Linked DNA regions of Homo sapiens. The protein of the gene in region 1 purifies or fractionates together with the protein of each later gene. This does not show direct contact. Each region holds a gene or a part of one and is shown on either strand. Other genes may lie near its edges.

Region 1 (5,185 bases):
TGGTTTCAGTTTTGTTTTTGTTTTTGTTTTTGAGACGGAGTCTCGCTCTGCTGTTGCCTAGGCTGGAGTGCAGTGGCACGATCTCGGCTCACTGCTACCTCCGCCTCCCAGGTTCAAGCGATTCTCCTGCCTCAGCCTCCCAAATAGCTGGGACTACAGGCATGTGCCACCATGCCCAGCTAATTTTTTGTATTTTTGGTAGAGACGGGATTTCACCGTGTTAGCCAGGTTGGTCTCTATCTCCTGACCTCATGATCTGCCTGCCTTGGCCTCCCAAATGGTTTCAGTTTTTATCTTGTATTGGCCACTCTGTTATAAAATATGCTGCATTTAACATTTACATTAAGATATTCCATGTATGATTTATCATTCTTCAGCTAAACCTTGAAGTAAGAAAAAGAATTTGCTATTTTTTTTTTTTTTGAGTGGGATTGTCTTAAGACTTTTTTTTTACGTAAGTAAGGCTGGGATTATATAGTTGGAAAACAGCCTGCCATGGGTTCAGATACCTGATTTGTAGTTCCAGCTTTTGAAACTGCCTAGGGGCATGGCCCCAGGCAGGTCCTCTCCTGTTCATTTCTCCTCTTATAGAAAAAGTGATTTACCAGATGATCTTTAAAGCAAGCTCTCCCAGCCCTGACATGTATCTCTGCAGCAGGGTTTCTCTACCTCAGTACTGTTGACATTTAGGGCTGAATATTTCTTTGCTGTGGGGGCTGTCCTGTGCATTGTAGGACGTTTAGTAACATCCCTGGTCTCTACCCACTAGATGGCATACCACCCCCGTTGTGACAATCAAAAATGTCTCTAGACTTTACCAAATGTCCCCTCCAGAGCAAAATTGCCCCCAGTTGACAGCCACTGCTCTAGACTAAGTTTCTTGCTTCCAAATAGAGCCTTACCAAAGTGTATTACATAAAGAAGTCAAGTGGTTTTACTCCTCATGACCAAATATTCTTTCCCTCCTTAGGATGAGGTGGTAGTAAATGACCGATGGGGTCAGAACTGTTCCTGTCACCATGGAGGATACTATAACTGTGAAGATAAATTCAAGCCACAGAGCTTGCCAGATCACAAGTGGGAGATGTGCACCAGCATTGACAAGTTTTCCTGGGGCTATCGTCGTGACATGGCATTGTCTGATGTTACAGAAGAATCTGAAATCATTTCGGTAAGAGCACCTTTGAGTTTTTTGTTTTTGTTTTTTTTTTTTTAACATGCAGTATGATTTATTTTATATAATGTTCAAAAGCTTGCAAAAACAGCATATTGTTTACAGATGCATATTTTGGAGGTAAAATTATGAAGAAAAGCGAGATCATTATAAACAAAATTTAGGAGGGGGCTGGGATGGAGAAGGGCATGCAAAAGGGCTTTAACGGTGTTGGTTGTAATCTATATCTTAAAGTGGGTGTGGGTAGTAGGGTGTCCAGTTTTTTATTTATTTATTTATTTATTTATTTATTCTTTATTGATCATTCTTGGGTGTTTCTCACAGAGGGGGATTTGGCAGGGTCATAGGACAATAGTGGAGGGAGGGTCAGCAGATAAACAAGTGAACAAAGGTCTCTGGTTTTCCTATGCAGAGGACCCTGCGGCCTTCCGCAGTGTTTGTGTCCCTGGGTACTTGAGATTAGGGAGTGGTGATGACTCTTAACGAGCATGCTGCCTTCAAGCATCTGTTTAACAAAGCACATCTTGCACCGCCCTTAATCCATTTAACCCTGAGTGGACACAGCACACGTTTCAGAGAGCACAGGGTTGTGGGTAGGGTCACCGATCAACAGGATCACAAGGCAGAAGAATTTTTCTTAGTACAGAACAAAATGAAAAGTCTCCCGTGTCTACCTCTTTCTACACAGACACGGCAACCATCCGATTTCTCAATCCTTTCCCCGCCTTTCCCCCCTTTCTATTCCACAAAACCGCCATTGTCATCATGGCCCGTTCTCAATGAGCTGTTCGGTACACCTCCCAGACGGGGTGGTGGCTGGGCAGAGGGGCTCCTCACTTCCCAGTAGGGGCGGCCGGGCAGAGGCGCCCCTCACCTCCCGGACCGGGCGGCTGGCTGGGCGGGGGGCTGACCCCCCCACCTCCCTCCCGGACGGGGCGGCTGGCCAGGCGGGGGGCTGACCCCCCCACCTCCCTCCCGGACGGGGCGGCTGGCCGGGCGGGGGCTGACCCCCACCTCCCTCCCGGATGGGGTGGCTGCCGGGCAGAGACGCTCCTCACTTACCAGACGGGGTGGCTGCCGGGCGGAGAGGCTCCTCACTTCTCATATGGGGCGGTTGCCAGGCGGAGGGTTTCCTCACTTCTCAGATGGGGCGGCTGGGCAGAGACGCTCCTCACCTCCCAGACGGGGTCGCGGCCGGGCAGAGGCGCTCCTCACATCCCAGACGGGGCGGCGGGGCAGAGGCGCTCCCCACATCTCAGACGATGGGCGGCCGGGCAGAGACGCTCCTCACTTCCTAGATGGGATGGCGGCCGGGAAGAGGTGCTCCTCACTTCCTAGATGGGATGGCGGCCGGGCAGAGACGCTCCTCATTTTCCAGACTGGGTAGCCAGGCAGAGGGGCTCCTCACGTCCCAGACGATGGGCGGCCAGGCAGAGACGCTCCTCACTTCCCAGACGGGGTGGCGGCCGGGCAGAGGCTGCAATCTCGGCACTTTGGGAGGCCAAGGCAGGCGGCTGGGAGGTGGAGGTTGTAGCGAGCGGAGATCACGCCACTGCACTCCAGCCTGGGCACCATTGAGCACTGAGTGAACCAGACTCCATCTGCAATCCCGGCACCTCTGGAGGCCGAGGCTGGCGGATCACTCGCAGTTAGGAGCTGGAGACCAGCCCGGCCAACACAGCGAAACCCCGTCTCCACCAAAAAAATACGAAAACCAGTCAGGCGTGGTGGCGCGCACCTGCAATCGCAGGCACTCGGCAGGCTGAGGCAGGAGAATCAGGCAGGGAGGCTGCAGTGACCCGAGGTGGCAGCAGTACAGTCCAGCTTCGGCTCGGCATCAGTGGGAGACCGTGGAAAGAGAGGGAGAGGGAGACCGTGGGGAGAGGGAGAGGGGGGAGAGGGAGAGGGAGAGGGGAGTTTTTTGTTTTTTTTAATGAAATGGGGTCTTGCTCTGTCATGCAGGCAATAGCGCAGTGGCACGATCATACCTCACTGTAACCTCAAACTCCTGGGGCTCAAGTGGTCCTCCCACCTCAGCCTCCTGAGTAGCTAGAACTACAGGTGTGCACCTCTACAACCAGCTAATTTTTAAATTTTTTGTAGAGACAGGGTCTTGCTATGTTGCCCAGGCTGGTCTCAAACTCCTGGCCTCAAGAGATCTAGCCTCAGCCTCCCAAAGCACTGGATTACAGGCATGAGCCATGGCAGCTGGCCTGAGTTCACTATTTTTTAACTATGGATCTCAAACCACTTTTTATTATTATTATTATTATTATTACCTTCTAACATACTATATGATTGATTTTAATTATTTTTTTCCTCTTTTTTTAAATTTTACTTTAAATTCTGGGATACAAGTGCAGAGTGTGCAGGTTTGTTTCATAGGTATACATGTGCCATGATGGTTTGTTGCAAACTATCAACCCGATATCTAGGTTTTAAGCCCCACATGCATTAGGTATTTGTCCTAATGCTCTCCCTCCCCTCACCCCCACATTCCAACAAGCCCTGGTGTGTGATGTTCCTCTTCCTGTGTCCCATGTGTTCTCATTGTTCAACTCCCACTTATGAGTGAGAACATGTGGTGTTTGGTTTTCTGTTCCTGTGTTAGTTTGCTAAGAATGATGGTTTCCAGCTTCATCCATGTCCCTGCAAAGGACATGAACTCATTCTTTTTTATGGCTGCAAAACCAGCTTTTTTATGTAAGAGTGATGTCCAGCTTCATCCATGTCCCTGCAAAGGACACATTCTCTTTTATGGCTGCAAAACCAGCTTTTTTATGTAAGAGTGATGGAAGTACTCTGGATAGAAGTGCAGGTCAATAGAACCCTTTTAAGGACATTGAATAGACTAACAGAAACCTGTCCTAAGGAAATAATTAGAGTTACACAAGAAAGTTGTGCAGAGGTCCTTCCCAGGATTATTTGTATGTATGTATGTATGTATGTATGTATGTATGTATGTATGTATGTGTATATTTATTTATTTATTTATGAACGAACTTCACTCTGTCACCCAGGCTAGAGTGCAGTGGTGCGATCTCGGTCTGCTGCAACCGCCGTCTCCCGGGTTCAAGCAATTCTCCTGCCTCAGCCTCCCGAATAGCTGGGAATACAGGCACGTGCCACCATGCCCAGCTTATTTTTGTGTTTTTAGTAGAGACAGGGTTTCTTCATGTTGGCCAGGCTTGTCTCGAACTCCTGGTAACCATAAAAATGTTGACAAATTTAATATGGGTTAATGTTTAGAGCACTGAATGAAAAAACAGTTACATATTGGCTGGGCACAGTGGCTCATACCTGTAATGCCAACACTTTAGGAGGCCAAGGTGGGAGGATCCTTTGAGGCCAGGAGTTCAAGACCAGCCTGGCCAAAATAGAAAGACCCCATCTCTATTATTATTATTATTTTTAATAAAGTTACATATTGGCTGGGCATGGTGGTGGCTCACACTTGTAACTCCAACACTTTGGGAGACCAAGACAAGAGGATTGCTTGAGGGCAGGAGTTTAAGACCAGCCTAAACAACATAGTGAGACCCCATCTCTATTTTAAAAAATAAAAATAAGTGGCCAGGCACGGTGGCTGACACCTGTAATCCCAGCACTTTGGGAGGCCAAGGAGGGTGGATCACAAAGTCAGGAATTCGAGACCATCCTGGCCAATGTGGTGAAACCCCGTCTCTACTAAAAAATACAAAAAAAATTAGCTGGGCGTGGTGGCACATGCCTATAATCCCAGCTACTCAGGAGGCTGAGGCAGGAGAATTGCTTGAACCCAGGAGGCAGAGGTTGCAGTGAGCTGAGATTGCGCCACTGCACTCCAGCCTGGGTGACAGAGCTAGACTCCGTCTGAAACAAAAATTTTTTTTAAATAATAATAAATAAATAAAATAAGTTACATATTATTACAACTATATAAAATTAACTACATAGGAAAAAGACTAGAAGAAGACATCAAAAGTTAATGGTGTGGTGTCACTTGGAGTACTGTAATGAATTCTTATAATG
Region 2 (5,185 bases), about 12 Mb from region 1:
AATGCCAGTCACCTGTCTACTACTTTTTAAATTTTGAGACGGCATCTCAGTCTGTTGCCCAGGCTGGAGTGCAGTGGTGGGATCTCAGCTCACTGCAGCCTCCGCCTCTTGGGCTCAAGCAATCCTCCTGCCTCAGCCATCCAAGTCACTGGGATTACAGGCATGCACCACTATGCCCGGCTAATTTTTGTATATTTAGTAGAGATGGGGTATCGCCATGTTGGCCAGGTGGGTCTCGAACTCCTGGCCTTAAGTGATCCACCTGCCTCGGCCTCCCAAAGTGCTGGGATTATAGGCATGAGTCACCACACCTGGCCACCTGCCTCCTACTTCCTAAAGATCTCTGGAATCTGCTCTCTCTGGCCCACAGTTCACTGCCACCATTCTCACTGGGCTCCTGGCCGTTGGTAGGAGCCTCCTTACTGCTCTGCCATTCCCTACCCTCATGCCCTTCCAGGCCATTCTCCATCCAGCAGCCAGAGGTGTCTTTAAACGATGCAAATCCAAGGCCAGGCGCGGTGGCTCACGCCTGTAATGTCAGCACTTTGGGAAGCCGAGGTGGGAGGATCACTTGAGGCCAGGAGTTCAAGACCAGCCTGGCCAACATGGCGAAACCCCATCTCTACTAAAAATATAAAAGGTAGCCGGGCGTGGTGGTACACGCCTGTAATCCCAGCTACTTGGGAAGCTGAGGCAGGAGAATCTCTTGAACCCAGGAGGTAGAGGTTGCAGTGAGCTGAGATGGTGCCACTGCACTCAAAAAAATAAATAATTTTTTTAAATAAAAAATAATACTATATTTTTTTATAATGTAAAATATATTATATATATTATATATAATAATTTATATAATATATATAATATATATATTGGTGGCTCATGCCTGTAATCTCAGCACTTTGGGAGGCCGAGGTGGGCGGATCACGAGGTCAGGAGATCGAGACCATCCTGGCTAACACGATGAAACCCCGTCTCCACTAAAAATACAAAAAATTAGCCAGGTGTGGTGGCAGGCGCCTGTAGTCCCAGCTACTCGGGAGGCTGAGGCAGGAGAATGGCATGAACCCGGGAGGCGGAGCTTGCAGTGAGCCGAGATCGTGCCACTGCACTCCAGCCTGGGCGACAGAGCGAGACATTGTCTTAAAAATAAATAAATAAATAAAGATGCAAATTCACACACATCACTTAATGACTTTCCACTGCACGGAGAATAAAATCCACAGGCCTCTTTTCAACCTTAGATGGGGATCTGCCATCTGCCCTCAACAGACACTTTTTTCCACTGGTCCAGAGTAAGCACAGTCCAGATGGCCTTGCCCTGGCCCAGGCCCAGGAGTAGGGATGTCCCATTGCTCTTGTGGTTGCTTGTCACCAGTCTGTACTCTAGCCAGGGGCCCATGTGGGCTTCCCCACTATGCCAGGTCTCAGCCCCCAAGGCACTCTGTGAGCTTGGCCCAGCCTTTCCCTTCTCTGGGCCAGGTTTCCCAGATAACTGTAAAAAGGGACACCAGGCCTGTATCCTCCCAGCCCTGCTCTCCAGGGGCTCCTCGTACAATCCGTTTCTTCACCACCTATATGGTGCCCAGCACTGAACAGTACAGCTTAGTGGGCACCATTGGTCTTATTCTTGGGGTCATTAGGAACTCATTAATAAGTGACATTCACTGGCAGCCCCATTTCCAACCTGCAGCCCCACCTCCTGTCAATTCAGGAGGACTTCTGAGAGGTGACAGGGTTTGTGGGCATATGAGTGGAGGTGGATAAGAGGGAAGGGTGGGAGGAGGCCCCTGACTTAGAGGCTGGAAGCTAAGGGTCCGTCTTGGTGTCCCCACCCACCAACCTTCAGGCTTCATCGGTTATGCCCCCAACCTCAGCAAACTGGTGGCCGAGTGGGAGGGCCAGGACAGCGACAGCGATCAGCTGTTTTACACCAAGATCTTCTTGGACCCGGAGAAGAGGGTAAGAGGCAGTGGGCGGGCCAAGGAGAGGGGGCTGGGGATCCACCGGCCAGGCTGCACGGGAACAGCTCCTCTCAGGCCTGAACCCCTGGGTTGGTGTCTTAGTCTATGCAGGCTGCTCTGACAAACTGCCATAGGCTGGGTGGCTCCCAAACAACGGATGTGGATTTCTCATGGTTCTGGAGGCCGGAAGGGTGAGATCACAGTTGGGTTCTGGTCAGAGCCCTCTAACTGGTACAGACACAGCTGACTTCTCTCTGTGTCCTCAGATGGTGGAAGGGGGTAGGGAGCTCACTGGGGCCTCATTGATAAGGACACTAATCCTATTTTTTTATTTTTGGGATGGAGTCTCACTGTATTGCCCAGGCTAGAGTACAGTGGTGCGATCTCGGCTCACTACAGCCTCTACCTCCCTGGTTCAAGCGATTCTCGAGCCTCAGCGTCTCGAGTAGCGGGGACTACAGGCGTGCACCACCACGTTTGGCTGATTTTTGTATTTTTAGTAGAGACAGGGTTTCACTACGTTCGCCAGGCTGGTCTCGAACTCCTGTCCTCAGGTGATTTACCCGCCTCGGCCTCTCAAAGTGCTGGGATTACAGTCGTGAGCCACCGTGCCCGGCTGTCGGGTCTTAAAGAGGCAGCATTGTTCATTGGTTCAGAATAAGGACTTCAGGGCCAGGCTGCCTGGGTTCCAATCCCAGCTCACCATTTACTAGCTGTGTGACATTGGGCAACTTCTCTGTCCCTTGTTTTTTCCGTTATGAAATGCAATAATGGGCCAGACCCAGTGGCTCATGCCTGTAATCCCAGCACTTTGGAGGCCAAAGCGGGTGGATCACCTGAGGTCAGGAGTTTGAGACCAGCCTGGCCAACATGATGAAACCCTGTCTCTACTAAAAATATAAAGATTAGCCGTGCGTGGTGGTGGGTGCCTGTAATCCCAGCTACTCAGGAGGCTGAGGCAGGAGAATTGCTTGGACCTGGGAGGCGGAGGTTGCAGTGAGCCGAGATTGTGCCATTGCACTGCAGCCTGGGTGACAAGAGCCAGACTCCATCTCAAAAAAAAAAGCAATAATGATAATACTTTCTCACAGAGATGTTGTCAGGATTAAATTGATTAATATATGTAGAATAGTTTATTTATTTATTTGAGACAGGGTCTCACTGTCACCCAGGCTGATGCGCAGTGGCAGAAACATAGCTCACTGCAGCCTCAGCCTCCCGGACTCAAGCGATCCTCCCACCTCAGCCTCCTGAGTAGCTGGGACTATAGGCCTGCGTCACCATGTCTGGCTAATTTTAAGATTTTTTTATAGAGATGAAGTTTTGCTATGTTGCCCAAGCTGGTCTCAAACTCCTGGGCTCAAGTGATCCTTCTGCCTCAGCCTCCCAAAGTGCTGGAATGACAGGAGTGAGCCACCGCACCCGACTCGTGTAGAATATTTGGAGTAGCGGCCAGGTGCGGTGGCTCACACCTGTCATCCCAGCACTTTGGGAGGCGGGGGGCGGGGGCGGATCACCTGAGGTCAGGAGTTCGAGACCAGCCTGCTCAATGTGGTGAAATCCCATCTCTAGCAAAAAAAAAAAAAAAAAAAAAAAAAATTAGCTGGGTATGGTGGCACATGCCCGTAGTCCCAGCTACTCAGGAGTCTGAGGCAGGAGAATCGCTTGAACCCAGGAGGCGGAGGTTGCAGTGAGTCGAGGTCGTGCCATTGCACTCCAGCCTGGGTGACAAGAGCGAAACTCTTTCTCAAAAAAAAGAATATTTGGAGTAGCTATGTGCGTGTAGTGGAGTGCTTGGCAGGTGCTGGTTACTCTTAACGGCCGTCATTGTTGTAGGTGAGCCGGCTGCATTCTTAGATTCCTTCCAGTTCAGAGTCCCTGGTTTTCTGTGAGTAGAGCCACTAGACTGTAGACCCCAGGAGCTTGGCTGCTGGCCTTCTCTGGGCACCTAGCTGCCCTGATGTGACGTGGCAGAGTCGGTGTGGGGAATGAGGGCTGAACTTGGGGACAGATTCCCCACACTGGGTGAGATGTAGCCCCAGCCTCCCCCAGGGCCTGTCCCTGCTGCAGTCTGGTACCTTCTTTCCTGCAGGAGCAGATCAATATCACCCTGGACCACCGCTGCCGTATCTTCCAGAACCTGGATGGAGCCTTGGGTGAGCAGCCCCCACGGGGAGGGGTGGATCCTCAGAGGGGTGATAGGAAGAATTCCAGGCAGGGCCCGAGCCCAGGGAGGAGAAATGGGCTGCTTCTTTCTGGCCATTGTGCTGAGAGGTCACTGGCCTCATCCCCAGGTCCCCAGGGGCCACTTGGATATCCTGGCGCAGAGCCATGTCTCTCTTGGGGGCGGGGGACAAGTGAGCATTCAGCCTGGGAGGAGTTGGGGGATGCGCACAGCAGGTGCTGGACCCCCTGCCCTGCATACCAGGTCCTTACAGGTGGGCCCTCTTTCCCCACTTTCCCGGCCCTCCCACCTTCCAGGTGAAGGAGTCCTGGGCTAGGGGCAGGAACTCAGCTGGTGGGACAGGCAGCTTGGGAAGCAAAAGGCTACTTGACCCTTGATGCCGCAAACATCCCTGGGCCTGGCCTCATGTCTGTGGCTGGTGATGACATTGCTTTGCCGCAGGTCTTCCTGTCTTCCTGAGTGACCTCAGGCAAGTCACACCTCCTCCCCACAGGGGACTCAGTTTTCTTATCTTTACAAAAGGGAAGTGAACCGGATCCACTGATTGCTGATTTTGTGGATAAATGGGCCCTTTTGAGAATCTGATGAAAGCTACGGCTCTGCTCCCAGAGAAACGCAGAAAATGCCCTTTGCCTGTGGTTTCTGGGGGTTAAGAAGCACTGAGTTCAGATCCACGCAGGTCAGGAGCTATCTGTTTTCCTTTTTTTTTCTTCTTTTTTAAGATGGAGTCTTGCTCCATCGCCCAGGCTGGAATGCAGTGGCGAATTCTCGACTCACTGCAACCTCCGCCTCCCAGGTTCAAGTGATTCTCCTGCCTCAGCCTCCCAAGTAGCTGGGATTACAGGCGCACACCACCATGCCCGGCTAATTTTTGTATTTTTTTAGTAGAGATGGGGTTTCACCATGTTGGCCAGGCTGGTCTCGAACTCCTGACCTCAGGTGATCCACCTGCCTTGGCCTCCCAAAGTGCTGAGATTACAGACGTGAGCCATCGTGCCCAGCCCTATTTTAATTTTTAAAATAGAGACAGGGTCTCACT

The links.
Region 2: the proteins of FUCA1 (region 1) and PLOD1 fractionate together in Homo sapiens (co-fractionation; one large-scale study listed by BioGRID). This does not show direct contact.

What each region holds. Positions count from the first base shown.
Region 1 is NC_000001.11:23,850,346-23,855,530, reverse strand, and holds part of FUCA1 (tissue alpha-L-fucosidase precursor), read left to right. Parts: intron 1-970; coding exon 971-1,171; intron 1,172-5,185. UniProt on the Homo sapiens protein: Alpha-L-fucosidase is responsible for hydrolyzing the alpha-1,6-linked fucose joined to the reducing-end N-acetylglucosamine of the carbohydrate moieties of glycoproteins.
Region 2 is NC_000001.11:11,950,777-11,955,961, forward strand, and holds part of PLOD1 (procollagen-lysine,2-oxoglutarate 5-dioxygenase 1 isoform 2 precursor), read left to right. Parts: intron 1-1,846; coding exon 1,847-1,959; intron 1,960-4,053; coding exon 4,054-4,117; intron 4,118-5,185. UniProt on the Homo sapiens protein: Part of a complex composed of PLOD1, P3H3 and P3H4 that catalyzes hydroxylation of lysine residues in collagen alpha chains and is required for normal assembly and cross-linkling of collagen fibrils.